Homo sapiens: one gene and its partners. The protein of the gene in region 3 interacts with the protein of the main gene of each other region in a pairwise test. Each region holds a gene or a part of one and is shown on either strand. Other genes may lie near its edges.

Region 1 (3,500 bases), on a different chromosome or scaffold from region 3:
ATGAAGAATGTTCCTCCTTTTCTCATCTAATTTAATAAACACTTTTGAATAAAGCTCAGACCCACCTAGAAAAACCCACAATCTATTCAGGTGAGATATGTGTAAAAAAAATTACAATAAAATGTGATACATAAAACTAATAAAACTTAGAGACCATTTGCCTAAAGGAATCATGAAAGGGTCACTGAGACACAGTTTTAAATAACATTGGACAATCACCAGTTGTAGAAAAGGGCATTCCAGGCAAAAGGGTGTGTAACTGTATGGAAGCAATAATAAGTACAACATTTTCAGGAAATAAGGAGAATTTGGTGTGACTAGGCCTAGATGCTTGTGGGGAGGCCAGGCTATAAAAAGATGTAAAGTCTAGGCTGTAGAGAGCTATGGAAGTCATGTAAAAGAGTTTGCAGTTTATTCTGCGGATGATGAAAAAATATTAGACATTGTAAGCAGGTGAGATTGTTAGAATATTTGCATTTATAATCAAAGATGTAGTAATATCATGGGTGAATGAGATGGGGAGAGAATAAAGGCAAGAAAACGTATTCAGAAACTACTTCAGAAGCCCAGGTGAGAGATAACATGGCCTTCAACTACAGGGTAGCAGAGGAAATGGGAGGAATAGACAGGTGAAAGGCAACTCAGAGGTTGGCTTGGGTGACTGAGTTGAAATGAGGTCAGAACAAGGGACAGGGAGTTTCTAGCGTGGGTATTTGGGATGTACATGGTTGCTACGTATTTCTGTCAACAAGGTGAGCTGAAAGTACCTGTAGAATATCTCCAAGGAGAACATACAAAGGATAACTAGAAACATGAGCCTGAATGTCAGGGTTGGGTGGAGCTAAGGGAATGATGGTGAGATTCATCAGCAAGCTAATGAAGACAGTGGCAGTGGAGGCGAATACAGACAGTGAAATTCCCTAGGGAGAGCTGTGATGTGGCTCAAAAGAGGGCGCAAAACAGTGCTCCAGGGAGCACAAACATTTAATGGATAAGAACAAGGTAATGAAGAAGCAAAAGGAACAGGGTTCAGAAAACCAGAAAAGCCAGTGCCCTGAATGTCTAGGGAGGGAGATTTCTAAAAGCAAATAGTCAATAACATCAGCAACTTTTCCTCTGGTGACAGTGTACTTATTTCTTTTAGTGAAGTAAACTCTGATTCCCCATCCTGGTGTACATATTTTTTTTTTTGAGACAGGGTCTCACTCTGTCACCCAGGCTAGAGTGCAGTGGTGCGATCATAGCTCACTGCAGCCTCAAACTCCTGGGCTCAAGCAATTCTTCCACTTCAGCCTCCCAAGTAGTTAGGACTACAGGTGCACACCACCACACATGACTAATTTTGTTTTATTTTTATTCTTGTTTTTTTGTAGAGATGGGGTCTTGCTATGTTTCCCAGGCTGGTCTCAAACCTCTAGCCTCAAGTGATCCTCCTGCCTTGGCCTGCCAAAATGCTGGGATTGCAAGCGTGCGCCACCGCACCTGGCCCTGACATATATACTTTAAGCAGTCAAAGTATTTGGTCCTTTTTCTTTCTCTTTCTCTGCCCCCTGAAACTCTTAAAAGGAAGTTAGGGATAGTTGTCTGGAACATCCCAGTTCCTTATCATAATGTTAAATGTGCACCAGAGCTGGGGGACATTTAAGAGCCAGACACCATGATCTAAAAGATGCTAAATAAAGGTATCTGCTGAAGGTAGGAAAGCACTGGCTTTGGTCTCATTAGTTACCTGTAAACCCGACTTGACAGGTGCACTCATAGGTATCCCGGCTGAGCATATGGCATGTGCCGCCATTCAGGCAAGGTCGAGACACAAAGCATGGATGAGATGTCGAGTACTGGCAGTCCTCTCCTGTAAACCCTGAGGCACATCGGCACGTGGCTTTCCCCAGCATGGCCTGGGCCACACAAGTCCCACCATTCTGGCAGCGGTTCTTCTCACAGGGGTCTCGATGTTGACAATATTCCCCCAAGAAGCCTTCTGGACATCTGTATGGAAAAGAGAAGAGTCCATGAAAACACCTGACTTCTTGTAAGTCCAAAAAATTACAGTAAAACAATACAGTCCAATCAAGAAAGCACGAGATTGTGAATCAACAGACCTACAAGGACCACCTATAAAACTGCTTCCCTTTAGAAGAAAGAGTCCTTAGAGAACTTAACCACATACTCCCATGTCCTTTTGAGTCCTGGCAGGTGACAGAGTATCAGGTGTATGGTCTAGCAGGGTCTGCCATGGCCAGTCAACATGACCCTTATTCAAACGCAAAATGCACCCCAGCTTTTTTTCATGTGTGTACAGGTTGGGATGGTGTAACAGCACCTTTTTTAGAGCACTGTTCGTACTTGTCTGCTTAAATTCATTAACTTTCTCATTTTGACTAAGCCATTTGATAGGATTAAGATGTCCACAATATAATGCATGAACTTGACCCTATTATCCCCTCCAATTTAAAATATGTAAGATATCATGTGCTTTTCCTCAATTAAGCATTGAGAAATAGTAAGTGCTTCTTTCTCTTATTTCCACTGAAACATCAATTGGATGATACCTAGTTTTCTGGGTTATGTTCAGGTGGCTGACATTACAACGGAAAAAGGGAAAGGAGGTACAGGAATGGGGAAGAGTTCAAAGGGATATTTAAAAATCTGTTAATATTTAAGTAGGCATTTTTAACCAAATAAAAAGACACAAAATATAATTAAAATAACATAAAATATCTAAGATACCATATAAACACCAAAGTCAAGGAAGGAATCAATTGAAGAATAACATTCTATGATATTTTCCACATTGAGGCACTGAGGAACCTTTTTACATGCCACCCCTTGATTCATAAGATGTACAACCATTTCAAACTGTGTGTATTATTTATGACAATTTTCTCTGAACAATATCAAAAAGGCATGGTAAGTCTCCATTTTCATAATGAAGTTGTTTAAATGGAATCTCTGAGAAGCATTTAAATTAAGAAACACAAACACTTTGATTCTAACTATAAATGCTGCTATATATTTGGCTGGTGCCCCAAATATGTGATTCAACTTATTCCTCGTTTTAGTTTTCAGGGACTAGAAAACTGAATCTAGTAGGCTGTTCCACCATTACCTCAAAGATTACACATTTAAACCAAACTCTAAATCCCCCTCTCAAAAACCAGCTTTTCTGTGCCCAAGCCTTGTTGTCCTGATTTTCCTAATCATTGTGACCTGAAACATTGGGGTCATGAGTGCTTTTGTCTTTGACAGTCATATCCAAGACCTTTCATTAACCATTGGTTGGCAAGGCTAGCTAGCAGGGGTCACAGTTACTGAGAAAAGAGGGAAGGCCAGATACTAGGGAACTAAGACAGAAAATGCCCAGAAGAATTGTGTAGTAGCTAAAATGGCTAAAGGAGAAAACAGGGTGGTGAATAGCTATAGTGGTAGTGAGGTAACTGGCCACAGCCTCTTCACCCCTCCCAGAGCTGCATAAGATAAGCATGGCAGAGCAAGGAGCG
Region 2 (3,500 bases), on a different chromosome or scaffold from region 3:
ACGTGTGCACAGGTTCATGGACACACACACACACACACACTCATAAAAACATTACCCTTACAGTATACAATGCTCTGATATTTAAAAATTCTATTCATTTAAAAAAAGAACTGCCAGCTGCAACTGACTACATTATTTTCACAAGTTTGGAAAAACACAGCTTTCTAGTTCAGTGTGTTACTGGTCTGTGACAAGGAGCTTGCGCCAGAAGGTAAGTCCATGCACTGCTTCACTCATTAAGGTCTTGCTAGAAAACAGAAATGAGTGGAAATAGACTGCATGCTCAGTGATATAGCTAATTCACATTCTGCCTAAGTCCCTTAGCTCACCGGGGGCCAGACAAGAGCTGCTCCCCAACAGGCACTAGCCCCCAGGACATTCTTTGAAAGCGCAGCTGTATCTTGCTAATCTCATAATTTTGATACTTACTTCCCTGCTCAAAAACTTTCAGTGATTCCTCCGTCATTTAAAGTCTAAATCTACTTGCCTGATGGTAAAGTTCTCTAATGACATGACCCTGACCTACTTAATTCCTGATTATTTCCCCAACATCAAACCTATACTGCACTCAAATTATTATTTTTTGAGATGGAGTCTCGTTCTGTTGCCCAGGCTGGAGTGCGGTGGCGCAATCTCGGCTTGCTGCAGCCTCTGCTCCCCCAGTTCAGGCGATTCTCCTGTCTCAGTCTCCTGAGTAGCTGGGACTACAGGCATGCGCCACCACGCCCAGCTAATTTTTGTATTTTTTGTAGAGACGGTTTTGCCATGTTGGGCAGGCTGGTTTCAAACTCCTGACCTCAAGTGATCCACCCGCTTTGGTCTCTCAAAAGTGCTGGGATTACAGGTATGAGCCACCGCACCTGGCCACACTCAAAATTATTCCTCACTGGTTTTCAAATTCACATCCAGTCCCCTGTGCCTTTGCTCTGTTTGGAGCTGCTCCTACTACTGCCTGTTGAAATTTGCAGCTCGAATGCCACCCTCCCTGCCCTGAGAGACTCAGATAGGCATGGCCAATGAGACATCAGTTGAGCACAAGTGGTCCAAACTTGAATTCACTGACTGCCCTTTCTTCCTGCTGGTCACCTCCTCTGAAGGGCTTGCATCTCATTCATCTCTGTCCTTGGTCTCCTCTAGTTCCTGACACAGCAGGTGTCAGAAGACTTGTCAAAACACATCTGGAAGGCAAGGCGGGGCAGGAAGTTCACCCCCCACAAGTGAACCCTGGCACCTTGTCCTGTGCTCAGCTCCCCAGGCTCCCTTCTACCCCACTCCTTCCAGGCCCCTGTGCCCACACACACCCTCAGTGCCAACTGCCCGCAGTGGGTGCACATTGTGTTTGTAGACGAACTTCTCCTCTAGCACCATCTGGATGGCAACGATGATCTGGGCCATGATGATCAACAGGTCCCCTGTGGGGAAGGAGGGACCCAGATGAGAACAGGGCTGCACTGGGGCTGGGGGCCAGGAGAGCATGGCCACAGCGACCAAACATGCCAGCCCCTGACCTCTGCAGGGCCCCCTATAGTTCATAGGCACAGTCACCACTGCCTGTCCCTGATTCCCTGGTTCCTGAGGGGCATGCCAGCAGTGCCAGGCTAAGGCCCCAGAGGCCTGCCTGTGTCTAAGAGCTGCCCCACGGGGTATGACGCAGGTCTTTCAAGAAGCAACAGGCTTTGAGATAGACATTTCTTGGTTGATCCTGACCCTAAGTGACCCAGGACAGTCATTTCATTGTAAAATGGGCTGTGATGCATCCGTTTGGGGCCTGTGGGAGTCACTGTGATGATGAACACACAGTGCTCAGCACCAGGCTGGGCACTTGGTAAGCACCTGTTCCTTTCCACTCCCAAATCCAGTAGTTTGCATGTCTGCATCTGTATCAAAGGACAAGCCAGCCCCTCGCCCTGCCCGGCCTGCCACTCATCCTTGGTGGAGCCACATCCCTTTGCAGTCTTCCCTACATTCTATCCATCACCTCCAGAGCTACCCACCTCACCCAGGGCTTGGTATATGGCACATGGCAGAGCTTGTATGAGTCTGTGCTGGGCTCCCAAGGAGGACAGGGCAGGATAGGGCAGCCCCGTGTCCCTGCCCCTGGCCGCACCTGTGATCACTTCGCTGAGCTTGTGCTGACTGTCGTGCTTGCTCAGGAGGTCAGCCAGGCCCACGACCACCAGCCCCGCGATGGTGGCTAGGATGCCCAGCCACTGGCTCAGCACCAGCCTCCGGCCCAGGAAGGCCACCGAGAACAGGCCAGTGAATATGATCACTGCACCCCGCAGCATCTGGAAGCTGGAGGCACTGGTCATGTTCAGAGCTAGGAAAGGAGAAACAAATTACAGTTAGCTTCCCAAGGCGAAGGCCATCTGTCACTAAGGGGTCTTTGGTGATAGACATGCCAAGCTCATAGTAAGCGCTCGATCAGTCCTGCCTGTGTGCCTGTGCGTGTGAAGTCTGGGGGAATGGTGGGATGAAGTGGAGGTGGGTGGGATAGGGCTGTTTCACCAGTAGCCCCTTCAGCCACAGCTTCCCCTGAGCCCTTCTCAGCCTGGCCTGGTTACTCACCCACATACATGAGGCTGGTCCCTGTCATGTCACAGAGCGCTGGGGGCAGGAAAAGAAGAGGGTTGAAGGGCTGCTGGGGGTCTACGCTGGAGTCTGATTGCCCTGCAGCTCTGCATCGGAGGAGGTAGAAGGCAGCCAGGCAGGAGAATTCTCCCAGGAACATGCCCACTGCCTGCAGGGATGAAAACCCGAGGACTTCAGAGCTGGAAGGGATCTCGGGGATCATCTTTAACTATTTTTTTTAATGCAAACTTTTGTCAAACAAGAGCTTACCCAGAACCCCAATATGTAAAATAGACAAATGCAGAGCTGCCATGGAGGCTAGAGACAGCCTCCTAGGTCTGCCCCAAAGCCCCCATACATCCTGATGAACCCTAAGGCTGTGCAGAGCCCTGTCTGAAAACCATCCATCTAGGCCAACCCCTAGTCAAATCGCAGGTGGAGAAGCCTAGACCCAAGAGAGGCTCAAAGACTTATGTAAGGCCACAAAGCAAGTTGCTGGTAGAGCTGGGGCTGACATTTGAGTCTCCTGATTCTCAGTTCAACGAACAGTGTCTTCCATTTATGGTGTCTGCCCTGTCCCAATTGGGGTCTGGGCTCCCAGTGGATAGAGAGCTGACTTTTGTCACTAGGGCTGATGTTTTCCACGTGTCCTGACTTGGATGTGGTGAGGACATGACCACTTGCCAGGACTTTCGCAGAGGATGGTGCTCTTTGCCCTATTCTAAACCTTGGATTCTGCTCTGGGGAGGGAAAGAGAGAAGTGGATGGCTCTTCTGGGAGCAGGAGACACCTCCACTCCTAAGTCAGGAAACAGCCTGGCCTCATGGCCGGGGGTGGCGCCTGGTCTGAGGCCCGGGAGACAGGAGGTAGGAGGGACAGGGCCAGATACCTGGAGGAAGGGATGCTGGAAGCTGTGCTCCTTGCTCCCT
Region 3 (3,500 bases):
GGCGCCTGTAGTCCCAGCTACTCGGGAGGCTGAGGCAGGAGAGTGGCGTGAACCCAGGAGGTGGAGCTTGCAGTGAGCCGAGATCATGCCACTGCGGTCCAGCCTGCGCAACAGGGCGAGACTCCGTCTCAAAAAAAAAAAAAAAAAAAAATTCACTCTTTACTTCCAGCTGCCAAAAATTTATATTATACGTTAAATAATTTTTCAACTTACACTGATTAGAAAGAGAACAAAAAGCCATGTGGCACAATGTAAAAATGTTACCAACTCTAACTGCAAAACTTTGGGTATATAATGTTAACTAAAGAAAGCAGTGATTCTAGTATAAGAATTAAAAATAATCTTAGCAGCACTATTCATGATAGTCTCAAACTGGAAATAATCAAATGTAGCATCAAAAGTACCATGGAAAAATTATGGCTTATGTATACAACTTAACACCACAGAGAAATGAGAACGAATGAACTATGGCTACTTCCAACAACATGGGTGAACCCCGCAAAGGGAATGTTAAGAAAGGAAGCTAGATGCTGTAAGTATATACCACAGAATTCCACCAATAGAATACTGACTAGGACGCATTATGGGGTCCTCTGGAATGCTGACAATGCTCTATGTCTTGATCTGAAAGCTGGTTTCACAGAGGGTTTACTGCATGAAAATTCACCAAGCTGTATATTTATGATTTGTGCACTTTTCTCATGTACGTCATACTTCGATAAAAAGTTAAAATAATGGCTGAGCACAGTGGCTCACGCCTGTAATCCCAGCACTTTGGGAGGCTGTGGTGGGCAGATCACCTAAGGTCAGGAGTGTGAGACCAGCCTAGCCAACATGGCAAAACCCCAACTCTACTAAAAGTACAAAAAGTAGCCAGGCGTGGTGGCGGGCACCTGTAATCCCAGTTACTCAGGAGGCTGAGACAAGAGAATTGCTTGAACCCAGGAGACGGAGGTTGCAGTGACCTGAGATCACGCCACTGCACTCCAGCCTGGGCGACAAGAGCAAGACTCCATCTCAAAAAGAAAAGTTAAAATAAAAAGTACTATGCAGTTAACCATGTCACTAAAATCCTGTATTTCTAACCTCCTGAAAAGATGATACCTCAGGTCATTCCAAAAAATCCCTTAGCAAATATTTACTGAGAGCTTCTCTATGTGCATGACACTATCTTATGAGCTGGGGATATAAAAGTAAATGACACTTCATCATTCCTTTCAGAAGCTTACTTTCGGCTGGGTGTGGTGGCTCACACCTGTAATCCCACTACTTTGGGAGGTTGAGGCGGGCAGATCACCTGAGGTCAAGAGTTTGAGACCAGCCTGGCCAACATGGTGAAACCCCATCTCTACTAAAAATACAAAAATTAGCCAGGTGTGGTGGCGGGCACCTGTAATCCCAGCTACTCAGGAGGCTGAGGCAGGAGAATCGCTTGAACCCAGCAGGCAGAGGTTGCAGTGAGCTGAGATTGCACCACTGAACTCCAGCCTGGGTGACAAGAGTAAAACTCTGCCTCAAAAAAAAAGAGGGCCGGGCACAGTGGCTCATGCCTGTAATCCCAGCACTTTGGGAGGCTGAGGTGGGTGGAGTGGGTGGATCACCTGAGGTCAGGAGTTTGAGACCAGCCTGGCCAACATGGTGAAACCCCATCTTTACTAAAAATACAAAACTTAGCCGGGCACAATGGCACACGTTCGTAATCCAGCTGCTTGCGAGGCTGAGGCAGGAGAATCACTTGAACCCAGGAGGCGGAGGTTGCAGTGAGCTGAGATCACGCCATTGCACTTTGGGGAAGCTGAAGCATGAACTGCTTGAGCTCAGGAGTTCAAGACCAGCCTGGGCAACATGGCGAAACCCCACCTCTACAAAAAAATACAAAAATTAGCCGGGTGTGGTGGTGCATGCCTGTAATCCCAGCTACTCGGGAGGGTGAGGTTGGAGAATGGCTTGAGCCTGGGAGGCAGAGGTTGCAGTGAGCCAAGATCACGCCACTGCATTCCAGCCTGGGTGACAGAGCAAGAGAGACCCTGTTTCAAGGAAAAAAAAAAAAAAAAGGAAGAAAGGATTGTTTAGGAGGGCCTTTCTCATGAAGAAACATTTAAGAAAACAGTAAAGGAGGCAAACCATTGGAGTCTCTAAGAAAATGAATTTCGGCAGAGAAGCTAGTGGAAAGACTGAGACAGGATGAGCTTAATGTCTAACAACACAGGGAAGCCAGTGTGGCTGCAGGTTAGGCTCTGCAAAGCAGCAGTCTGGCAGAGCTCCTGTGAGCATGACTCTTGTTATGCTGGCTTTTTGCATATGGGGCTCCTGCGAACTTGGAACGTGAGGAACTGAATTTTAAATTTATGAATTAAACTGTAAATAGTTACATGTAGCTAGTGGCTACTGTATTAGCACAGATATACAGCCTCATAGGCCACAGTAAGGGCTGTGAATTTGAAACCATCCTCAAAGAGTTAAAGAAACCAATGACTAACAAATTCTTGAGTTTGGACTGGGCGTGGCTTACACCTGTAATCCCAGCATTTGAAAGGCCAAGGTGGGTGGATCACTTGAGGGCAGGAGTTGGAGACCAGCCTGGCCAACATGGCAAAACCCCGTCTCTACTAAAAATACAAAAATTAGCCAGTGTGGTGGCGTGTCCCTGTAATCCCAGAGGCTGAGGCAGGAGGATCACTTGAACCCAGGACGGCAGAGGCTGCAGTGAGTTGAGATCACATCAGTGCACTTAAGCCTGGGCATCAGAGGAGACTGTCTCAAAAAAAAAAAAAGAAAGAAATTATTGAGTTTGCAGGGTAGCAGATAAGAAACTACTTGGTAAAATACTGAAACTTCCTCCCCTTATGGGATAAAAGAACTGGCTGAAATTGGTTGGAACCAATATGGCCAAGTAGAGTCTGCAGAGAACAAGCTTCCTGGTGTCGCAAGCTGACTCTCCATCACGTTTCATACTCATTCCCCTGAATTGGCACATGAGCCCTATGAGTTAGCATGAGGAGATAACTGTGCATGCCCAAGGACCTTCCAGATGTCCCCTTTCCTTCCATCGCTCACCTACTGATCTCAGAATCCACCCTCTGAACCTTTTCTAATAAAAACACTGCCTTGAAGTCAGCACAGGGAGGCAGATTTGAGGTCGACTCCTGTCTCCTTGGGAGTCAATTTGCAATATAAAGCCTTTCTTGTCTCAAAAACCTGGTGTCACAGTGCATCAGGAAGCGAGCCCCTTTTCCTGGATCACAATTTTGAGTGAGAGGAGAAGCCACTGGAGGGTTTCAAAGAGAGTAGTGATGTGGTGTACGTTTAGAGGATCATCAGTGCTGCTGTTTGTGGGAGGCAGATCAGCAAGTTAGTCAGGGGCATGAAGATGACACTGGTTTGCACTCAATGACAGCAGTGGAGGAGGAAAGAAGTCGGATTCAGAATATTTTATGACATATACATAATTTGATATATACATAGTTTATATGTAGATGCCACCAGCTGAAAGGTAATAC

What was found. The genes of interacting proteins can lie anywhere in the genome.
Region 1: the proteins of PSMG2 (region 3) and NOTCH2NLA interact in binary tests that used the Homo sapiens proteins (3 or more experiments, as listed by UniProt).
Region 2: the proteins of PSMG2 (region 3) and SLC35F6 interact in a two-hybrid assay, tested with the Homo sapiens proteins (one large-scale study listed by BioGRID and IntAct).

What each region holds. Positions count from the first base shown.
Region 1 is NC_000001.11:146,163,022-146,166,521, forward strand, and holds part of NOTCH2NLA (notch homolog 2 N-terminal-like protein A), read right to left. Parts: intron 1,990-3,500; coding exon 1,730-1,989; intron 1-1,729.
Region 2 is NC_000002.12:26,774,284-26,777,783, reverse strand, and holds part of SLC35F6 (solute carrier family 35 member F6 precursor), read right to left. Parts: coding exon 3,461-3,500; intron 2,741-3,460; coding exon 2,569-2,740; intron 2,321-2,568; coding exon 2,108-2,320; intron 1,413-2,107; coding exon 1,302-1,412; intron 1-1,301. UniProt on the Homo sapiens protein: Involved in the maintenance of mitochondrial membrane potential in pancreatic ductal adenocarcinoma (PDAC) cells. Promotes pancreatic ductal adenocarcinoma (PDAC) cell growth. May play a role as a nucleotide-sugar transporter.
Region 3 is NC_000018.10:12,713,042-12,716,541, reverse strand, and holds part of PSMG2 (proteasome assembly chaperone 2), read right to left. Parts: intron 1-3,500. UniProt on the Homo sapiens protein: Chaperone protein which promotes assembly of the 20S proteasome as part of a heterodimer with PSMG1.